Linked DNA regions of Homo sapiens. The protein of the gene in region 2 purifies or fractionates together with the protein of the main gene of each other region. This does not show direct contact. Each region holds a gene or a part of one and is shown on either strand. Other genes may lie near its edges.

What was found.
Region 1: the proteins of ZFAND2B (region 2) and PAAF1 purify together in Homo sapiens (affinity purification with mass spectrometry; 3 studies listed by BioGRID and IntAct, with this or other methods). This does not show direct contact.
Region 3: the proteins of ZFAND2B (region 2) and GLUL purify together in Homo sapiens (affinity purification with mass spectrometry; 3 studies listed by BioGRID and IntAct, with this or other methods). This does not show direct contact.

The regions. Positions count from the first base shown.
Region 1 is NC_000011.10:73,893,886-73,901,003, forward strand, and holds part of PAAF1 (proteasomal ATPase-associated factor 1), read left to right. Parts: intron 1-5,260; coding exon 5,261-5,359; intron 5,360-6,384; coding exon 6,385-6,535; intron 6,536-7,118. UniProt on the Homo sapiens protein: Inhibits proteasome 26S assembly and proteolytic activity by impairing the association of the 19S regulatory complex with the 20S core.
Region 2 is NC_000002.12:219,202,686-219,209,872, forward strand, and holds ZFAND2B (AN1-type zinc finger protein 2B), read left to right. Parts: upstream 1-4,096; 5' UTR 4,097-4,302; coding exon 4,303-4,357; intron 4,358-4,641; coding exon 4,642-4,736; intron 4,737-4,962; coding exon 4,963-5,094; intron 5,095-5,201; coding exon 5,202-5,353; intron 5,354-5,570; coding exon 5,571-5,663; intron 5,664-5,740; coding exon 5,741-5,801; intron 5,802-5,886; coding exon 5,887-5,954; intron 5,955-6,291; coding exon 6,292-6,364; intron 6,365-6,576; coding exon 6,577-6,621; coding exon of another isoform or gene 6,622-6,937; 3' UTR 6,938-6,963; downstream 6,964-7,187. UniProt on the Homo sapiens protein: Plays a role in protein homeostasis by regulating both the translocation and the ubiquitin-mediated proteasomal degradation of nascent proteins at the endoplasmic reticulum.
Region 3 is NC_000001.11:182,377,500-182,381,810, reverse strand, and holds the end of GLUL (glutamine synthetase), read left to right. Parts: 3' UTR 1-3,713; downstream 3,714-4,311. UniProt on the Homo sapiens protein: Glutamine synthetase that catalyzes the ATP-dependent conversion of glutamate and ammonia to glutamine.

The DNA.
Region 1 (7,118 bases), on a different chromosome or scaffold from region 2:
TCGTCTCTACAAAAAAATTAAAAGTTAGCCAGGTATGGTGATGTACATCTGTAGTCCCAGCTAGTCGCCTGGCTTAAAAATTTTTATTCTTATTTTTTGTAGCGGTGGAGTCCTGCTCTGTTGCCCAGGCTGGTCTCAAACTCCTGACTTCAAGCAGTCCTCTCTCCTTGGCTTCCCAAAATGCTGGGATTATAGGTATAAGCCACTGTGCCTGGCCTTTATACATCATTTTTTATTATTTTCTGCTTTAACTGAGGGAGAAGGCAATTCACCTCTTGGGAGAGTTGGGAATGCCGCTCACCTTTTGAGAAGTAAGTCATTTTAAAAATCATTTACAGGCTAGGCACAGTGGCCCATGCCTGTACCCAGCACTCTGGGAGTCCAAGGCAGGAGGATCACTTGAGCCCAGGAGTTTGAGACCAGCCTAGGCAACATAGTGAGACCTTGTCTCTACAAAAAAATAAACAAAATAGGCTGGTTGTAGTGGCTCACACCTGTAATCCCATCACTTTGGGAGGCTGGGGTGGGCAGATCAATTGAGGCCAGGAATTCAAGACCAGCCTGGCCAACATAATGAAACCCCATCTCTACTAAAAATATAAAAATCGGAGGGAAGGGATAGCATTAGGAGATGTACCTAATGTTAAATGACGAGTTAATGGGTGCAGCACACCAGCATGGCACATGTATACATATGTAACTAACCTGCACATTGTGCACGTGTACCCTAAAACTTAAAGTATAATAATAAAAAAAAATCTACTAAAAAAAATAAAAATAAAAAAAAAATCAGCTGGGCATGGTGGCACACGCCTGTAATCCCAGCTACTCCGGAGGCTAAGGCACAAGAATCGCTTGAACCCAGGAGGCAGAGGTTGCAGTGAGCCGAGGTTGCGCCACTGCACTCCAGCCTGTGTTACTGAGCAAGACTCTGTCTCAAAAAATAAAATTAGCTGGATGTGGTAGTGTGTGCCTGTAGTCCCAGCTGCTCGAGAGGCTGGGATGGAAGGATTGCTTGAGCCTAGGAGGTCAGGGCTGCAGTGAGCTGTGATTGTGCCATTGCATTCCAGGCTGGGTGACAGAGTGAGACCATGTCTCAAAAACAAACATAACTGTGCTCCTTTTCTATTTCTTATTCTCTTTTTATTTGAGCTTACTGAAAGATGATTCATCCATTTATTAATCACCTACTATATTTCAGCCAGTCTTCTGGATACTGAATAAAATAAATAAAACTGCCCTTATAGATCTTACATGCTAGAGATGTGGGACTAGACGTGATTTGCTGATGACTTGGATGTTAAGTATGAGAGAAAAGGAGGAGTTGGGATGATTCAAAAAATTTTGGCCTGAGAAGTAGGTGAATTGTGTTCCATTTACTAATTGGAGGAGGAGGAGTTGTATTGGGATGGGGCAGGGGAAATAAAAGTTTTCTTTGGACATGTTCAGTTTGAGGTTTCCAGTCTAGCCTAGGTGTTCACTGCCTACCAGCAAGCAATTGGATAGATACCACCTGTATCAGGACAGAACCTGAAGTATGTTGCTTACAAGTAAAGGATCCACTACTAAGTTAGCAGTCCTTTTATTCCGAGGAAGCAAAATGAAGAAGAAAAGTCTTAGAAAATGTTAGAGTTGATGGATATATCCCTATAGTTCTTCCCAAACTTATTTATTATGGTTTAATTGACATAGAACAAAGTAAAATGGAAAGTTGGATAATTAAAGCCAAAGTCCCTACTTTTTTCTTAATAACTTATGTGGGAATTATTGTTGCTGGGAATGTGTCTGGAATTGCATATCTTGGTCCATCATTTCTGGAGCATTTGCAGCTGGTTGTTTTTTAATAAAAGTGTACATGTATGCATGTGTATAAAAGATTTGTTATTCTGATAATGGCTTATGCATGAAGTGATTGCTGATACTGAAATTACAAAAGTGAGGCTGGGCGCGGTGGCTCACGCCTGTGATCCTAGCACTTTGGGAGGCCAAGGCAGAAGGATAGCTTGAGCCCAGGAGTTCAAGACCACCCTGGGCAACATAGGGGGACCCCATCTCTCCAAAAAAAAGTTAAAAAATTAGCTGGACATGCCAGCCCATGTTTGTAATCTCAGCTATTGGGAAGCTCAGGCAGGAGGATCACTTGTTCCTGAGAGGCTAAGGCTGTAGTGAGTTGTAATCATGCCCCTGCACTTCAGCCTGAGCAACAGAGTGAGACCCTGTCTTTAAAAAAAACACAAAAACTATAAAAGTGAGTTTGGAAAACAAAAAGTGAATCTGAAATTTCTCTATTCTTTATTCTGAAAGATCTATATCTGTATATTTTCTATAGCTATACCTATATATAGGTATATGTGGAAATATCTGAACTCTTTTTTTTTTTTTTTACGATGTTTCTTTTTTTCTTTTTTTCTTTTTTATTTATTTTTTTTTTTATTGATCATTCTTGGGTGTTTCTCGCAGAGGGGGATTTGGCAGGGTCACAGGACAATAGTGGAGAGAAGGTCAGCAGATAAACAAGTGAACAAAGGTCTCTGGTTTTCCTAGGCAGAGGACCCTGCGGCCTTCCGCAGTGTTTGTGTCCCTGGGTACTTGAGATTAGGGAGTGGTGATGACTCTTAAGGAGCATGCTGCCTTCAAGCATCTGTTTAACAAAGCACATCTTGCACCGCCCTTAATCCATTCAACCCTGAGTGGATACAGCACATGTTTCAGAGAGCACAGGGTTGGGGGTAAGGTCACCGATCAACAGGATCCCAAGGCAGAAGAATTTTTCTTAGTACGGAACAAAATGAAAAGTCTCCCATGTCTACCTCTTTCTACACAGACACGGCAACCATCCGATTCTCAATCTTTTCCCCACCTTTCCCCCCTTTCTATTCTACAAAACCGCCATTGTCCTCATGGCCCGTTCTCAATGAGCTGTTGGGTACACCTCCCAGACGGGGTGGTGGCCGGGCAGAGGGGCTCCTCACTTCCCAGTAGGCGCGGCCAGGCAGAGGCGCCCCTCACCTCCCGGACGGGGCGGCTGGCCGGACGGGGGGGCTGACCCCCCAGACCTCCCTCCCCGACGGGGCGGCTGGCCGGGCGGGGGGGCTGACCCCCCCACCTCCCTCCTGGACGGGGCGGCTGGCCGGGCAGAGGGGCTCCTCACTTCCCAGTAGGGGCGGCCGGGCAGAGGCGCCCCTCACCTCCCAGACGGGGCGGCTGGCCGGGCAGAGTGGCTCCTCACTTCCCAGTAGGGGCGGCCGGGCAGAGGCGCCCCTCACCTCCCGGACGGGGCGGCTGGCCGTGCGGGGGGCTGACCCCCCCACCTCCCTCCCGGACGGGGCGGCTGGCCGGGCGGGGGGCTGACCCCCCCCACCTCCCTCCCGGACGGGGCGGCTGGCCGTGTGGGGGGCTGACCCCCCCACTTCCCTCCCGGACGAGGTGGCTGCCAGGCGGAGACGCTCCTCACTTCCCAGACGGGGTGGCTGCTGGGCGGAGGGGCTCCTCACTTCTCAGACGGGGTGGCTGCTGGGCGGAGGGGCTCCTCACTTCTCAGACGGGGCGGTTGCCAGGCAGAGGGTCTCCTCACTTCTCAGACGGGGCGGCCGGGCAGAGACGCTCCTCACATCCCGGACAGGGTGGCAGGGCAGAGGTGCTCCCCACATCTCAGACGATGGGCGGCCGGGCAGAGACGCTCCTCACTTCCCAGATGTGATGGCGGCCGGGAAGAGGCGCTCCTCACTTCCTAGATGGGATGGCGGCCGGGCAGAGAGGCTCCTCACTTTCCAGACTGGGCGGCCGGGCAGAGAGGCTCCTCACTTTCCAGACTGGGCAGCCAGGCAGAGGGGCTCCTCACATCCCAGAAGATGGGCGGCCAGGCAGAGATGCTCCTCACTTCCCAGACAGGGTGGCGGCCGGGCAGAGGCTGCAATCTCGGCACTTTGGGAGGCCAAGGCAGGCTGCTGGGAGGTGGAGGTTGTAGCGAGCCGAGATCACACCACTGCACTCCAGCCTGGGGCACCATTGAGCACTGAGTGAACGAGACTCCGTCTGCAATCCCGGCACCTCGGGAGGCCGAGGCTGGCGGATCACTCATGGTTAGGAGCTGCAGACCAGCCCAGCCAACACAGCGAATCCCCGTCTCCACCAAAAAAACACGAAAACCAGTCAGGCGTGGCGGCGCGCGCCTGCAATTGCAGGCACTCGGCAAGCTGAGGCAGGAGAATCAGGCAGGGAGGTTGCAGTGAGCTGAGATGGCAGCAGTACCGTCCAGCTGGGCATCAGAGGGAGACCGTGGAAAGAGAGGGAGAGGGAGACCGTGGGGAGAGGGAGGGGGAGGGGAAGGGGGAGGGAGAGGGAGAGGGAGAGGGAGAGGGAGAAGGAGAGGGAGAGGGAGAGGAATAGCTGAACTCTTGAATCCTCCTGGTGCATCTTAGAACATTATCTTTTGTGTAAGTGGGTTCCTAAGAATTAGGAGAGGTATCTTAATTTTCTTTTTATTTTTTATATTTACTTTAAAATTTTTTGTAGAGATGGAGTCTCATTATATTGCCCAGGCTGGTCTCGAACTCCTGGGCTCAAGTAATCTTCCTGCCTTGGCCTCCCAGAGTGTTGGGATTACACAGGTGTGAGCCACTGCACCTGGTCTTAATTTTAAAATAAAATAGCAGGGCTGGGCACGGTGGCCTATAATCCCAGCACTCTGGGAGGCTGAGATGGGAGAATCACTTGAGCTCAGGAGTTTGAGACTAACTTGGGCAACATGGTGAAACTCTGTCTCTACCGAAAAATACAGAAATAAGGCACAGTGGTGTGCGCCTGTAGTCCCAGCTACTCGGGAGGCTGAGGCAGGAGAATCACTTGAGCCTGGGAGGCAGAGGTTGCAGTGAGCTGAGATGGGGACATTGCACTCCAGCCTGGGTGATGGGAGTGAAACTCTGTCAAACAAACAAACAAACAAACAAATAAATAAATGCAACACATGGAAACTATGGAAATGAAATGGGGATAGGGAAAACTTTTTAGCTGAAGCATTAGACTTCAGATGATTAGAGGAATATCTTTTTGTTTGAAGAAGTAAAAGGTGTTTACTTCAGCCTTGTTGGGAGGTTGGTGATGATAACTCAACCTTTACATCAAACACAAGTCCTTTTGTTGGGAAACACAGGCTTCAGGAAGTCTTGGAAGAGTGAAAAAAGGGAAGTTTATAACATATTTCAAGGGAATAAGAGTATTTCATTATTTCTAACACATTGTTTGTTTTCTCTTTGAACAGATAACATGCCTGGACATTTCCAGCAGAGGAGGTCTTGGTGTGTCTTCTAGTACTGACGGGACCATGAAAATCTGGCAGGCTTCCAATGGAGAACTCAGGGTAAAGGATTTGGATGTACTTTTAGGTCTTAAACACAAAGGGTGGTCTGAGAAGCCTTGGACTGGGACATGGAAGGAAGAATGGCCCATTCTAAAAATGTGGGACCACTCTGCATGTCAGTTGATCTCTTTTCTCCCATTTGTGTGTTTCTTTTTCTTTTTCTCTTTTTTTTTTTTTTTTTTTTTTTGAGACAGTCTTGCTGTGTTGCCCAGGCTGGAGTGCAGTGGTGTGATCTCAGCTCACTGCAACCTCCGCCTCCTGGGTTCAAGCGATTCTTGTGCCTCAGCCTCCCAAGTAGCTGAGATTACAGGCATGTGCCACCACACACATCTAATTTTTGTATTTTTAGTAGAGATGGGCTTTCGCCATGTCGGCCAGGCTGGTTTCCAACTCCTCACGTCAAGTGATCTGCCCACCTTGGCCTCCCAAAGTGCTGGGATTACAGGTGTGAGCCACCGCTCCTGGCCTCTCAGCTGTCAATTCGAGAACCTTTCTCAAGCTCAGTGATTTGGCAGAACAGAGTGGGGCTGGAGCAGTTAAGGAGCCAGACCAGTGAAGGTCTAAGTGGGTGTGCCCTTGTTTTTTAATTGCCTTCAGTGATCCATTTCCAAGACAGAATAGCTTGGCTGTTAGACTGAATCTATGGCTGAGCCTCCAACCTTTACAAAGGATTTTAAACAGAGATGAGTGAAAAAGTCCCCAAGCCACCTCAGCTCTTTAACTAGATCTAGAGATGGCTGTGAAAGCCATGGAATTCTTTTTTTTTTTTTTTAACCTAGGCTCTGGGGTGTTTTTACATGGAATTCAGTTCTATAACCTCTATAGCTGAATTCGAGGAAACACCTTTTAGAACACTGCCTGCTAGACAAATGAGCTAAGAGATCCTTTGGATATCCTTAGTTTTAAAACCCAGCATGTGGGTTTAGCATGTAGGTATTTCATATAAGGGACCAGAGTATGGGAGGTAAGAGAACATCAAGGGATGGACAAGAGAACTAGCATGGAATTTTCTTTTGTTTTTCCAGAGAGTATTGGAAGGACATGTGTTTGATGTGAATTGTTGCAGGTTTTTCCCATCAGGCCTTGTGGTCCTGAGTGGGGGAATGGATGCCCAGCTGAAGATATGGTCAGCTGAAGATGCTAGCTGCGTGGTGACCTTCAAAGGTCACAAAGGAGGTATGAAGTGTGCTTTCTCCAAAAGGCTTCTCTAATGATCCCCAGAAATGAATCACTGAAAAGGTAGAAACAAGCTAGTTTATTCACAAATACACAAATAATCCATCCAGCTGGGCATTTAGATGAGCTGCCATTTCCCTAAGGACCAGAAATTCCTTTGCCACACAGTCTTTTTATTGCTATCTTGAACTGTCTTACACAGTTGGTTTGATACCTAAAGCCTTTTCCAGCTGGGTGCAGTGGTGCATGCCTGTAATCCCAGCTTTAAAAGTTGTTTTCTGGCCGGGCGCGGTGGCTCACGCCTGTAATCCCAGCACTTTGGGAGGCCGAGGCGGGCGGATCACGAGGTCAGGAGATGGAGACCATCCCGGCTAAAACGGTGAAACCCCGTCTCTACTAAAAATACAAAAAATTAGCCGGGCGTAGTGGCGGGCGCCTGTAGTCCCAGCTACTTGGGAGGCTGAGGCAGGAGAATGGCGTGAACCCGGGAGGCGGAGCTTGCAGTGAGCCGAGATCCCGCCACTGCACTCCAACCTGGGCGACAGAGCGAGACTCCGTCTCAAAAAAAAAAAAAAAAAAAAAA
Region 2 (7,187 bases):
ACTTCGTAGCAAGTAATTTAATCTCTCTCAACTTCAGATTTTTTATCTGCAAAATGGGGATACATGATATCTTTTTCAAAAGATTTTCTTTCTTTTTTTTTTTTTTTTTTTGAGACAGAGTCTCACTCTGTTGCCCAAGCTGGAGTGCAGTGGCACAATCTCGGCTTACTGCAAGCTCCGCCTCCTGGGTTCACGCCATTCTCCTGCTTCAGCCTCCCGAGTAGCTGGGACCACAGGTGCCCGCCACCACGCCCAGCTAATTTTTTGTATTTTTAGTAGAGACAGGGTTTCACCGTGCTAGCCAGGATGGTCTCGATCTCCTGACCTTGTGATCTGCCCGCCTTGGCCTCCCAAAGTGCTGGGATTACAGGCGTGAGCCACCGTGCCCGGCCTACTTCAAAGGATTTTCACAGGGGATTAAATAAGCTAACACATGAGGAAGAGCAGGACACAACAATAAGTGCTAGTTTTTCTTTCCATTTCTTTTTTTTCCTGTTTCTTTATTAATTGAGACATAGTCTCGCTCTGTTGCCACCATGCCTGGCTGATTTTTGTATTTTTAGTAAAGACAGGGTTTCACCATGTTGGCCAGGGTGGTCTTGAACTCCTGGCTTCTGGTGATCTGCCCACCTCAGCCTCCCAAAGTGTTGGGATTATAGGCATGAGCCATCGTGCCTGGCCTTTTCCTTCCATTTCTATATGCACTGTTTCACTAAGAGTCAATTGAGAGGCGGAAAACCACTGAGACAAATACCATTAAACTAATATTCAAGTTGAATTGGAGCCAAGACACCTTTTCTGGCTATCCTCAGTTTGACCTTGTCTGCTTTAGACCTGCTAAAGCTAAAATAACTGGCGTCTGGCTATGACTATGCCTGCGAATTTTAGAGGAACCTATGTCTACTGTCCCAATGAGAGGCTGCAGCTCAGTTACCCACAGCTAAAGCGCAAGGCTGCTTAGCAGGTCTGTGTATGCTTTGTTGGTCTACAATAAAAGAGACTTAAGTAATGCTCAGTTGTTAATTGATATCTCCTAAAATAGCTAATTCAAGTTGCAAAATGTTATTTGATTTCTCTCTCAGTGTTCTCCTGGCTTCTTTTATTCAGGAAGCAAGGAGGCTACATTGGGGAATGGTGACTTTGGTTTGTGCGGGCACTCTTTTTAAATCGTGGGATGAGAACATCACCCAGTGAGAAAGCCCCTGGGCTGGTAATCAGCACAGAGAGCTTAGTCAGGACTATAACCCATCAGTCAGAAAAATATTTGCCTGGGAAGAGAGATACTACCGTGAGAGCTTCATTCACTTTTATCGTGGTCGCTGGGGTCTCTGAGGTAAGTCTGTTATGGCATGATATGGTCTGGATATGTGTCCCCTCCAAATCTCATGTTGAAATGTATTCCCGCCGGGCGCAGTGGCTCATGCCTGTAATTCCAGCACTTTGGGAGGCCGAGGCGGGCGGATCACGAGGTCAGGAGATCGAGACCATCCTGGCTAACACGGTGAAACCCCATCTCTCCTAAAAATACAAAAAATTAGCCGGGCGTGGTGGCATGCGCCTGTAATCCTAGCTACTTGGGAGGCTGAGGCAGGAGAATGGTATGAACCCGGGAGGCGGAGGTTGCAGTGAGCTGAGACTGTGCCACTGCACTCCAGCCTGGGCGACAGAGTGAGATTCTGTCTCAAAAAAGAAAAAAAAAAAAAAAAAAAGAAAAGAAAAAGAAATGTATTCCCAATGTCAGAGGTGGGACCTGGCAGGAGGTGATTGGAACCTGAGAGTGGACCCCTCATGAATGGCTTAGTGCCATCCTCTTGGTGATGAGTGAATTCTCACTCAGTTCACATCAGATCTGGTTTTGAAAAGACTCTGGGACCTCCCTCTTCTCTCTCTTGCTCCCACTCTTGCCATGTGACATGCCTGTTCCCCCTAGGCCTTCTGCAATGATTAGAAGCTTCCTGAGGCCTCACCAGAAGCTGAGCAGATGCTGGCACCATGCTTCCTATGCAGTCTGCAGAACCATGAATAAATTAAACCTCTTTCTTTATAAATCAACCAGCCTCAGATTTTTTTTTTTTTTTAAAGACAGGGTCTCACTTTGTTATCCAGCTGAAGCACAGTGGTACAATCATAGCTCACTGCAACTTCGAGCTCCTAGGCTCAAGCAATCCTCCCACCAAAGCCTCTCGAGTATTTGGGACAACGGGTGGATGCCACCATGCCCAGCTAACTTTTTAAAAATTTTTTTTGTAGAGAGGGAGGTCTTACTATGTTGCCCAGGCTGGTCTCAAACTCCTGGACTCGAGTGACCCTCCCACCTTGGCCTCCGAGGGATGGGATTACAGGCATGAGCCACCATGCCTAGCGAGGTATTTCTGTATAGCAACATAAGAACAAATGACTACATTTGCACTTCAAGCATTCTGGCTCATGCTCAAAAATGAGATCCGAAGATTTTTATTTTTTGAGTTCCACAAGGCTTTGGTTATCTGAGCATTTGTAAAGTGGGAGTGGGGAGAGAGGCAGTGTTTATCTTTGTTTAGTCTGCTCCATACACGTTTCTCCAAACTGAAAGCCTACAATTCTTTCTATTTTTGTAGAGACAGGGTCTCACTATGTTGCCCAGGCTGGAACTCCTAGGCTCAAGCGATCCTCCTGCGTCAGCCTCCCAAAGTGCTGAAATTACAAGCGTCAGCCACCATGCCGGGACTGGAAGCCTACAATTCTAAATTGTACTGATGAATATAGAGAGGAAAAAAAATGAATAAACAAAATTCTTAGAACCAAATGATTATAATGAGACTGGGAAAAAATTATTTGAAATCTGACAGTTATATATTGAAACAAAATAAAAGCATTTATAAAGTCCTGGATGCAATTTAAAATAAAAAGAATATTGGCTGGGAGTGGTGGCTCATGCCTGTAATCCCAGCACTTTGGGAGGCCGAGGCGGGCAGATCACGAGGTCAGGAGTTCGAGACCAGCCTGGGCAACATGGTGAAACGCCGTCTCTAAAAATACAAAAATTAGCTGGACGCAGTGGTGTGCACCTGTAGTCCCAACTACTTGGGAGGCTGAGGCAGGAGAATCGCTTGAACCCGGGAAGCAGAGGTTGCAGTGAGCCGAGATCATGCCACTGCACTCCAGCCTGGGTGACAAGAGTGACACTGTGTCTCAAAAAAAAAAAAATTATATTGGTCAGGTGTGGTGGCTCACGTCTGTAATCCCAGCACTTTGGGAGGCCAAGGCAGGAGGATCACTTAAGGCCAGGAGTTCGAGACCAATCTGGGCAACAAAGAGAGACCCCTCCCCAACCCCATTTCTACAAAATTAAAAATTAGCTGAGCACGGTGGCTTGTGCCTGTAGTCCTGGCTACATTCAATAATTACTAAGAATATTCTAGGCTAGGGTTTTTCAGAGTGTGGTGCATGGCAATCTGTGTCAGAATTCCTTCAGGTGCTTCCTACTGAATTAGAAGCTCCAGGGCCCGGAAATCCGCATTTTAAACTAGCTCCGTAGGCGATTTGGATTCACACTAAAGACTGAGGACCACACTGTTCTAGGCACTGTTAGGTGCTGGGACCTAACACGAAACAAGGTAGACGTGGTTCCTGATTTCCCAGTATGCTCATATAGGGGTTGGTCGCATTAGTGATATGGGTGCTAGAATGGAAGAAGTAAGATCACATAGCAGGTGCGCCTAGTTCAGACTGAGGAGGGATCTGCAGCTCTAGAGACGTCTGTACTTCAGAGAAATACAGGAGCTGTCAGCTCGTGGAGGCGAAGGGCAGCCGTGGCCGTGAACAAAATGGCCAGGAGGAGGGCATCGTGTGTGAAGCGGGCTAAGGACCGAATTGTGAAAGACCCCAAACCACCCAGCCTTCCATCCCCCAAGATATCCGTCTTTGCCTTCGCTGGCCTTCCTCTGCGGAGCTACGCCCGCGCCCAGGGTGGCGGAGCCGCGCATCAACACCCTCTCGCCTCGGGACAGTCTTCCGACTCAGCCTTCTAGAGCAAGGCGAGGCGGGGCGGGGCTCAACCGAGGCCCTCCCCGGCTGCCCGGAGACTGCGCCGGACGCGCCAGCCCTGCGGGATGACGTCAGCGCGCCGCGCGCGCCGAGGGAGGAGCGGGCGCCGGGGGCCGGCTGGCGCGGGGGCTCCGGTAACCCGGGCTGGGCGGGGGAGAGGAAGGGGCGGGGCAGGGAGCCCGCCAGAGTGCGGGGTCGCGGTGCGGACTTCGAGCACGAGCCCTAAAGACGCTCAGCACTCGTCGCTTCTCCTAGCAGACCCTGCCCGGCTTGGCGATGGAGTTTCCGGACCTCGGCGCTCACTGTTCGGAGCCGAGCTGTCAGCGCTTGGGTGAGGGGCGGAGCGCGCGGGGGGCGGGGCCCAGCGGACAGGGACTTTGAACCGCAGGTTGGGAGGGAAGGGTGGGCTCCCAGGCTGGCAATGCCGGGGGGCGGGGCTTGAAGCTGGGGGGGGGTGGTCAGCGGCAGAGGGGGCGTGGCCAAGGAGGTAATGGGCTTGGGAAGGGGCGGTGTGTCGAAAATAGGGTGGCGTTTTCCTTCCCGAGTGGAAGACTTGAGTGAGAGAGAAGGACATCGAGGTCCCGCTGGACCTGCAATCCGACCAACTCTTTGCAGATTTTCTGCCGCTTAAGTGTGATGCCTGCTCAGGCATCTTCTGCGCAGACCATGTGGCCTACGCCCAGCATCACTGTGGATCTGCTTACCAAAAGGTGAGGGGGCGATCCTCAGGGTGAAAGCAGGCAGATGGAGAATGCGTGCAGAATCCCCCAAATCTGTGTCTCACGTTTCTTCTCCCTTTTGTCCTTCTGAGGCTGTCAGTGCTGGGAAACACTGTTTTTTTGCGTGTTTGTGGTGGGTCATATCCAAGTTCTTTCAGGACCAGAGATTTGTTGGACTGGAGTGGGCCACAGACTGACCCTTGCTCCTTGACTACAGGATATCCAGGTACCTGTGTGCCCTCTCTGTAATGTGCCTGTGCCTGTGGCCAGAGGGGAGCCCCCTGACCGTGCTGTGGGAGAGCACATTGACAGAGACTGTCGCTCTGATCCAGCACAGCAAAAACGTAAGGTAAACATTGTAGGGGTCAGCCACAACCCAGCTGGGACTACGGATGCCTGGAAACCCAAACAGCTAATCAGAGTCTCAGCAGAGACAACCTTCTCACTTCACCTCAGATCTTCACCAATAAGTGTGAACGCGCTGGCTGCCGGCAGCGAGAAATGATGAAACTGACCTGTGAACGCTGTAGCCGAAACTTCTGCATCAAGCACCGGCATCCACTGGACCATGATTGCTCTGGGGAGGGGCACCCAACCAGCCGGGCAGGGTAATGGCAGCCAAGTCCTCCACTTGCTTTTGGGAAGCATTCTTTTGGAACTGACTCAAGCTCTGTTGTTATAAATTGGGGAGCTTCAACCCTACCCTGTCGGCTAGGGGAGTCTTTTAGCTTCCTTTTCAAGTGCATGTTTTTCCAGAACTCCCCTCCTGACTTCCTGGGTAAGGCTAGTTCTTGGAGACATGCCAAAAATCTCTCTTCCCTACAGACTTGCTGCCATCTCCAGAGCACAAGCTGTGGCTTCTACAAGCACTGTCCCCAGCCCAAGTCAAACCATGCCTTCCTGTACCTCTCCCAGCAGGTAGGCCTGCCCGTTTCCCTGCTCCCCCTTTTTCCCCTTCACACCTCTGACCTCCACCTCTTCAATGTCTGTCGTAGAGCCACAACCCGATCTCCGTCCTGGACAGCCCCTCCAGTGATTGCTTTGCAGAATGGCCTGGTGAGTTGGGCAGAGGTTGGATGGACAGAAACAAACACACAGAGAGTGAAGTCCAAGGACGCTGGTCTTCTTTCTCCCTTTGTAGAGTGAGGATGAAGCTCTGCAGCGGGCCCTGGAAATGTCCCTGGCAGAAACCAAACCCCAGGTTCCAAGGTACCTTACCCTCTTGTGAAAGAGAGCGCAAGCTGTGGGCAAGGGCTTGGTCTGGAGGCAGGTAGGTGGGACCACTCTGACACAATGCAAGATAATCGCTGGCAACTTGGTCTCAAAATTAAGATGAACTATATGATCTTTGACAAGTTATTTAACCCATGGAGCCTTCATTTCCTCTATAAAACGGGGACAATACTAATACCCACCTTGTAGTGTTGCTATGAAGATTGAGATAATCCTCAGCAGTGCTCAGCACCATGAGGCCCAACACACACAGATCAGATGTTCAAATTTCAGATCTTACCATCATCCAACTTAAACTGTTTCTCCCTCCCAGTTGTCAGGAGGAAGAAGACCTAGCTTTAGCACAAGCACTGTCAGCCAGTGAGGCAGAATACCAGCGGCAGCAGGTATGAGGCTGGGCTGAAGATATATGCTGCAGTGGAAGGGAGGAAGAAGTCAGGGATGGGGGTTCTTCCTAGTGGTGCAGAGTTTTGGAATGGTGGTTATCGTCTGGTTTTCAGTATGACTCCAGCCCATGCTGAGCTCTGAAATGAGGGCTGTCCCTCATTTCCTTGACGTTGCACTGTGTCTTCCCCTCCTTCCCCTCTCTTTGCTCTAGGCCCAGAGCCGCAGCTCGAAGCCGTCCAACTGCAGCCTGTGCTAGGGCCCTGGGCTTGGGGAGGGAGGTTCACCTGAGGAGGACTGTGGCCCTCACACCTCTAGGGTACACAGGGAGAGGAGGCCCGGAGCACCCTGGAGGGCAGAGACAAGCGGGAGTGATGTGGAGGTCGCCCTGGGAGCCTCTGGAAGGCCTTGCTAGTGCTCCAGCTGCATGGAAGAGAGCGGCTAGCAACTGTTCCCTGGTTGGGCCCTCAGTGGATGCTGGCCAGGCCCTACTCTTAGCCCCTTCATCATGTCATCTCCCTTATGCTGGAGCTGCCCCGATGTGGAGTGGGCAGGAAGGGGCCTGGAAAAAATAAAGGATCTTGGCAGTTGATAAAACGTACAAGTGGTGTGTTTCTCTCTCCTCTCTAACCTCAAACAGGAAAGCCGTGTCAAGAATGCTCATCTGACTTATGGGTAGAGGCCCGCTGCAGTACCCCATCCCACAAAGCCACAGTGATCCTCGCACAGTCCACATTTTTATTTCCCCAAAAGATGTTTTTCGGAAAGGTCCCTTTCCCTTACCATAGCTAGCACCATACCCCAAGACCAGGATGAAATAAGCCA
Region 3 (4,311 bases), on a different chromosome or scaffold from region 2:
TCCACCCCCCCAACTGAAGTTGTCTTCCCTTTGCTTGGCCACCCTTACAGCCTCTTGGATGGTGTATCCTACAGTGTAAGCACTAAACTGAAGAGGCAGTGACCTGAGCACTTTGGATTTTGTTCATTGTAATCAATTCCATGACAAAATGATTGCATGAGAAGGAATTTTAAATTCATAGGATCAGAATTTAGGTGAAAACAACCAGCATATTTGTTTCTTCACCCTCTCACCTAGAATTAGCTTTGACCTACAGGTCACAGTGCAATCCCCTTGTATTTCTAAGGTGTTTTTTATAGTTCATTTGCAGACAATGGGTTATGTGATAACTTTTATCAGTGATAGATTAAACAGAATAATGACCAAGCTTTCAACCTTAAGGAGTCAGGCCAGTATTTACAAAAGGAGGTCTCCATGAACTCCTTAAATATGAGTTCCCCTAATATCATCTTGCCAGGTACTAAATAACAACTGATAGCACAAGCTATAGGGAATTTGAAAGAATTCCATGGATGGGTGTTGTCTAGGGCCTTTTGTTGTTTTTGAGACGGGGTCTGACTCTCACCCAGGCTGGAGTATAGTGTGGCGCAATCTTGGCTCACTGCAACTTCTGCCTCCCAGATTCAAGCGATTCTCCTGCCTCAGCCTCCCAAGTAGCTGAGACTACAGGTGTGCACCACCATGCTCAGCTAATTTTTGTATTTTTAGTACAGATGGGGTTTCACCATGTTGGCCAGGCTGGTCTTGAACTCCTGATCTCCCAAAGTGAGGTCTTGAACTGGTCTTGAACTCCTCCACCTCCCAAAGTGCTGGGATTACAGGCGTGAGCCACTGCACCCGGCCTAGGGCCATGTAAAAAGCCAGATCTGTGCTGCTGTCTGTGTAGAAGGGTAGACAAGTGGATGAGAAGTTCCTGAACTATTCTTGGCCCTTTTACCACTAAGTGAAAGTAACTTGCTGCCCCAAAGAAAGATGTCTCATCATTCGACAGGACTTTCTAGTTGAACTTCATGAAAGCAAGAGATCCTGTTTTTCTTGCTCACCACTGTATCTTGAGACCTGTTGTAGTGCCTGCAATACTTATTTAATAAGTTATTTTTAAGTATCAGTTTTGTGAGCTTTAACTCTATGAGGTCTTTGTTGTTTGACTGTATTTTAACTCTGGCCATGACAGCAAGACAAAGTTCCATTTTTATTGAGCTTAAAAAGAATCAAGGCCAGGTGAAGTGGCTTACGCCTGTGATCCCAACACTTTGTGAGGCTGCAGCAGGAGGATCTCTTGAGCCCAGGAGTTTGAGACCGTTCTAGGCAATGTAGTGAGGTCCAGACTCCACAAAATAATTTTTTTTTAAATTGCACGCCTGTAGTCTCAGCTATCAGGAGGCTGAGATGGGAGGATGACTTGAGCCCAGGAAATTGAAGCTGCAGTGAATTGTGATTGCACCACTGCACTCCAGCCTGGGTGACAGATCAAGACCTTGCCTAAACAAAACAAAACAAACAAAACCCCAAAAAACAAATTGAAAATGTTGATTCTTTTTACTACAAACATTATGGCAGCACTAAAAACTTCGTGGGAGTGTACTGTGGAAAATAGTGTACTTAATTAATTCTCATTGTAATCAGGCTACCAAGAGCCTTGTGTTGCTTTAAGAGTTATAACTGCCAGGCACAGTGGCTCATGCCTATAATCCCAGCACCTTGAGAGGCCGAGGCAGGTGGATCACCTGAGATCGGGAGTTTGAGACCAGCCGGGCCAATATGGTGAAACAAGCTGTGTCTCTACTAAATACAAAAAATTAGCCGGGCGTGGTGGCACATGCCTGTAATCCCAGCTGCTTGGGAGACTGAGACAGGAGAATTGCTTGAACCTGGAAGGCGGAGGTTGCAGTGAGCTGAGATTGCAACATTGTACTCCAGCCTGGGCAACAAGAGGGAAACTCCATCTCAAAAAAAAAAAAAAAGTTGTAACTGAGGCTGGGCATGGTGGCTCATACCTGTAATCCCAGCACTTTGAAAAGCCGAGGCAGGTAGATCACTTGAGCTCAGAAGTTCGAGACTAGCCTGGGCAACATGACAAAACCCCATCTCTACAAAAAATACGAAAAATTAGCTGGGCGTGGTGGCATGCACCTGTAGTCCTAGCTACCTGGGAGGCTGAGGTGGGAAGATTACTTGAAGCTGCAGTGAGCCATGGTTGTGCCACTGCCCTCCAGTCTGGGCAACAAAGTGAGACCCTGTCTCAAAAAAACAAAAAAAAATTATAACTGATGTAAACTGGCAGTTTAGGCTGGGTGTGGTGGCTCAAGCCTGTAATCCTAGCACTTTGGGAGGCCAAGGCAGGTGGATCACCTGAGTTCAGGAGTTCGAGACCAGCGTGGCCAACATGGTGAAACCTTGTCTCTATTAAAAATACCAAAATTAGCAAGATGTGGTGGTGGGTGCCTATAATTCCAGCTACTCAGGAGGCTGAGGCAGGAGGATCGCTGGAGCCAGGGAGGCAGAGGTTACAGTAAGCAAAGATCACTCCACTTCACTCCAGCCTGGGCAAAAGAGTGAGACATATCAAAAAATAAACAAATAAATAAATAAATAAGTGGCAGTTCATCATTTAACTCCAAAGACTTTGCGTACATTTCTACTGAAAACAATCTGAGCTGATTAGAACCCTGCCATTTTATAGCCTTTAGCTCGATCTCCGACCGTTCATTTAAAAAAATTCTACTTCAGGCCGGGCATGGTGGCTCAAGCCTGTAATCCCATCACTGTAGGAGGCCAAAGTGGGCAGATCACTTAAGGTCAGGAGTTTGAGACCAGCCTGGCCACCATGGTGAAACCCCATCTCTACTAAAAATACAAAAATTAGCCGGGCTTGGTGGTGAGCACCTGTAATCCCACCCTGCCGAGTGGCAGGCTGAGGCAGGAGAATCGCTTGAGCCCAAGAGCCGGAGGTTGCAGTGAGCCAAGCTTGCACCATTGCACTCCAGCCTAGGCAACAGAGTGTGACTCCATCTCAAGAAAAAAAAAATTCTATTTCATTTTACAATATGCAGATATATGTCCATACACATGCATAATATAAATGTATACCATATTTGTGAGAATATGCATATATGTACACATTAGATACACAATACAAGCACAATACATATGTCTTTTGCCCAAGATACAGCATTTTGTAAAGGAGACAGGAATTTAGTAATATATGTTCCAGAAACAGTACACAAGAGAATTCGCCGAGATGAGAAAGTTGTCACTAGGAATGGGGAGTGGTAAGATGTAGAAGGTATAATTGTTCTTAAAGTTCTACTGCCAACTCTTTCCAATTAATTACCCACTCTGCCATGCTTTATGGACAGGAGGTTGTCGGACACTGTCAATTAATAAATATTTGAGCATGATACACTGCTTGGAGCTCCTCTAATATAGGAGAGTGATATCCTAGTGCATGTTACAGAGGGAGTGTCCACACAGTTCCTATTGTCATTTGATGAGTTACTTTTCAGGGGCCTTGTACCTGAGCAAGTTGTCCTCTTTTTGATGGATTTCAGATTGAGTTACCTGCATTGTCTTGAGATTGCAGCGTGTTTCCTCCACTGTACGGCGTAGTCAGCAGATCTATTAGTTAAACTCCAGTGGGCCCTCAGTCACTAAATCTATCCTCTGTGTTGAAGGCTTTCTGCATTTGCCTTTCAATAAAGGTTTAGAATAACTCCTTCTCTGTGACTCTGTTTTACTCCTCTATTGACAGTAAATTGAATCAGCATTTAAGATGTGAAAAAATTAATAATCAAATGAAATGGGGGTCAAATAGGCACTAGTTTGGTGTGTTGGGGAAAGCATATGAATGAGGGGTGGTCAAGTGAATGGTCAAGTCTCCTTTATGACCCTCCTTTTATAGCTAAAGGTTGTCACTGGCAGCACCAAAAGGAAGGGGACTCCTGGGCCCATTGCTATGTATCCCAGTTTATTCTCAAATGATTTTGTGAGCTGTTTTGGTAACTGTTTAAATAAGGCTACAGAATGAAATGTAGTATCACATTGTGGGAGGAGAGGGAAAAGGATTCCTTTTTTCGTTTTTTGGAAGAAGTGAACACTTGCCTGGACTCTGGGAAGGAACCTGTGATCTAATTAGCTAAATTTAGAGAGACAGTACAGTAAGAGAATGCACTTTTCCAGAGCTTCCTTTGCAAGAGAGGATCCATCTCTTCAAACAATCTACCACCAGGCTCATTCCTAGGTGGGCCTAAGATCCAGAAACTACCAATCTATTAACATTTTTATATAAATACTGCTATGGCATAGCACTTA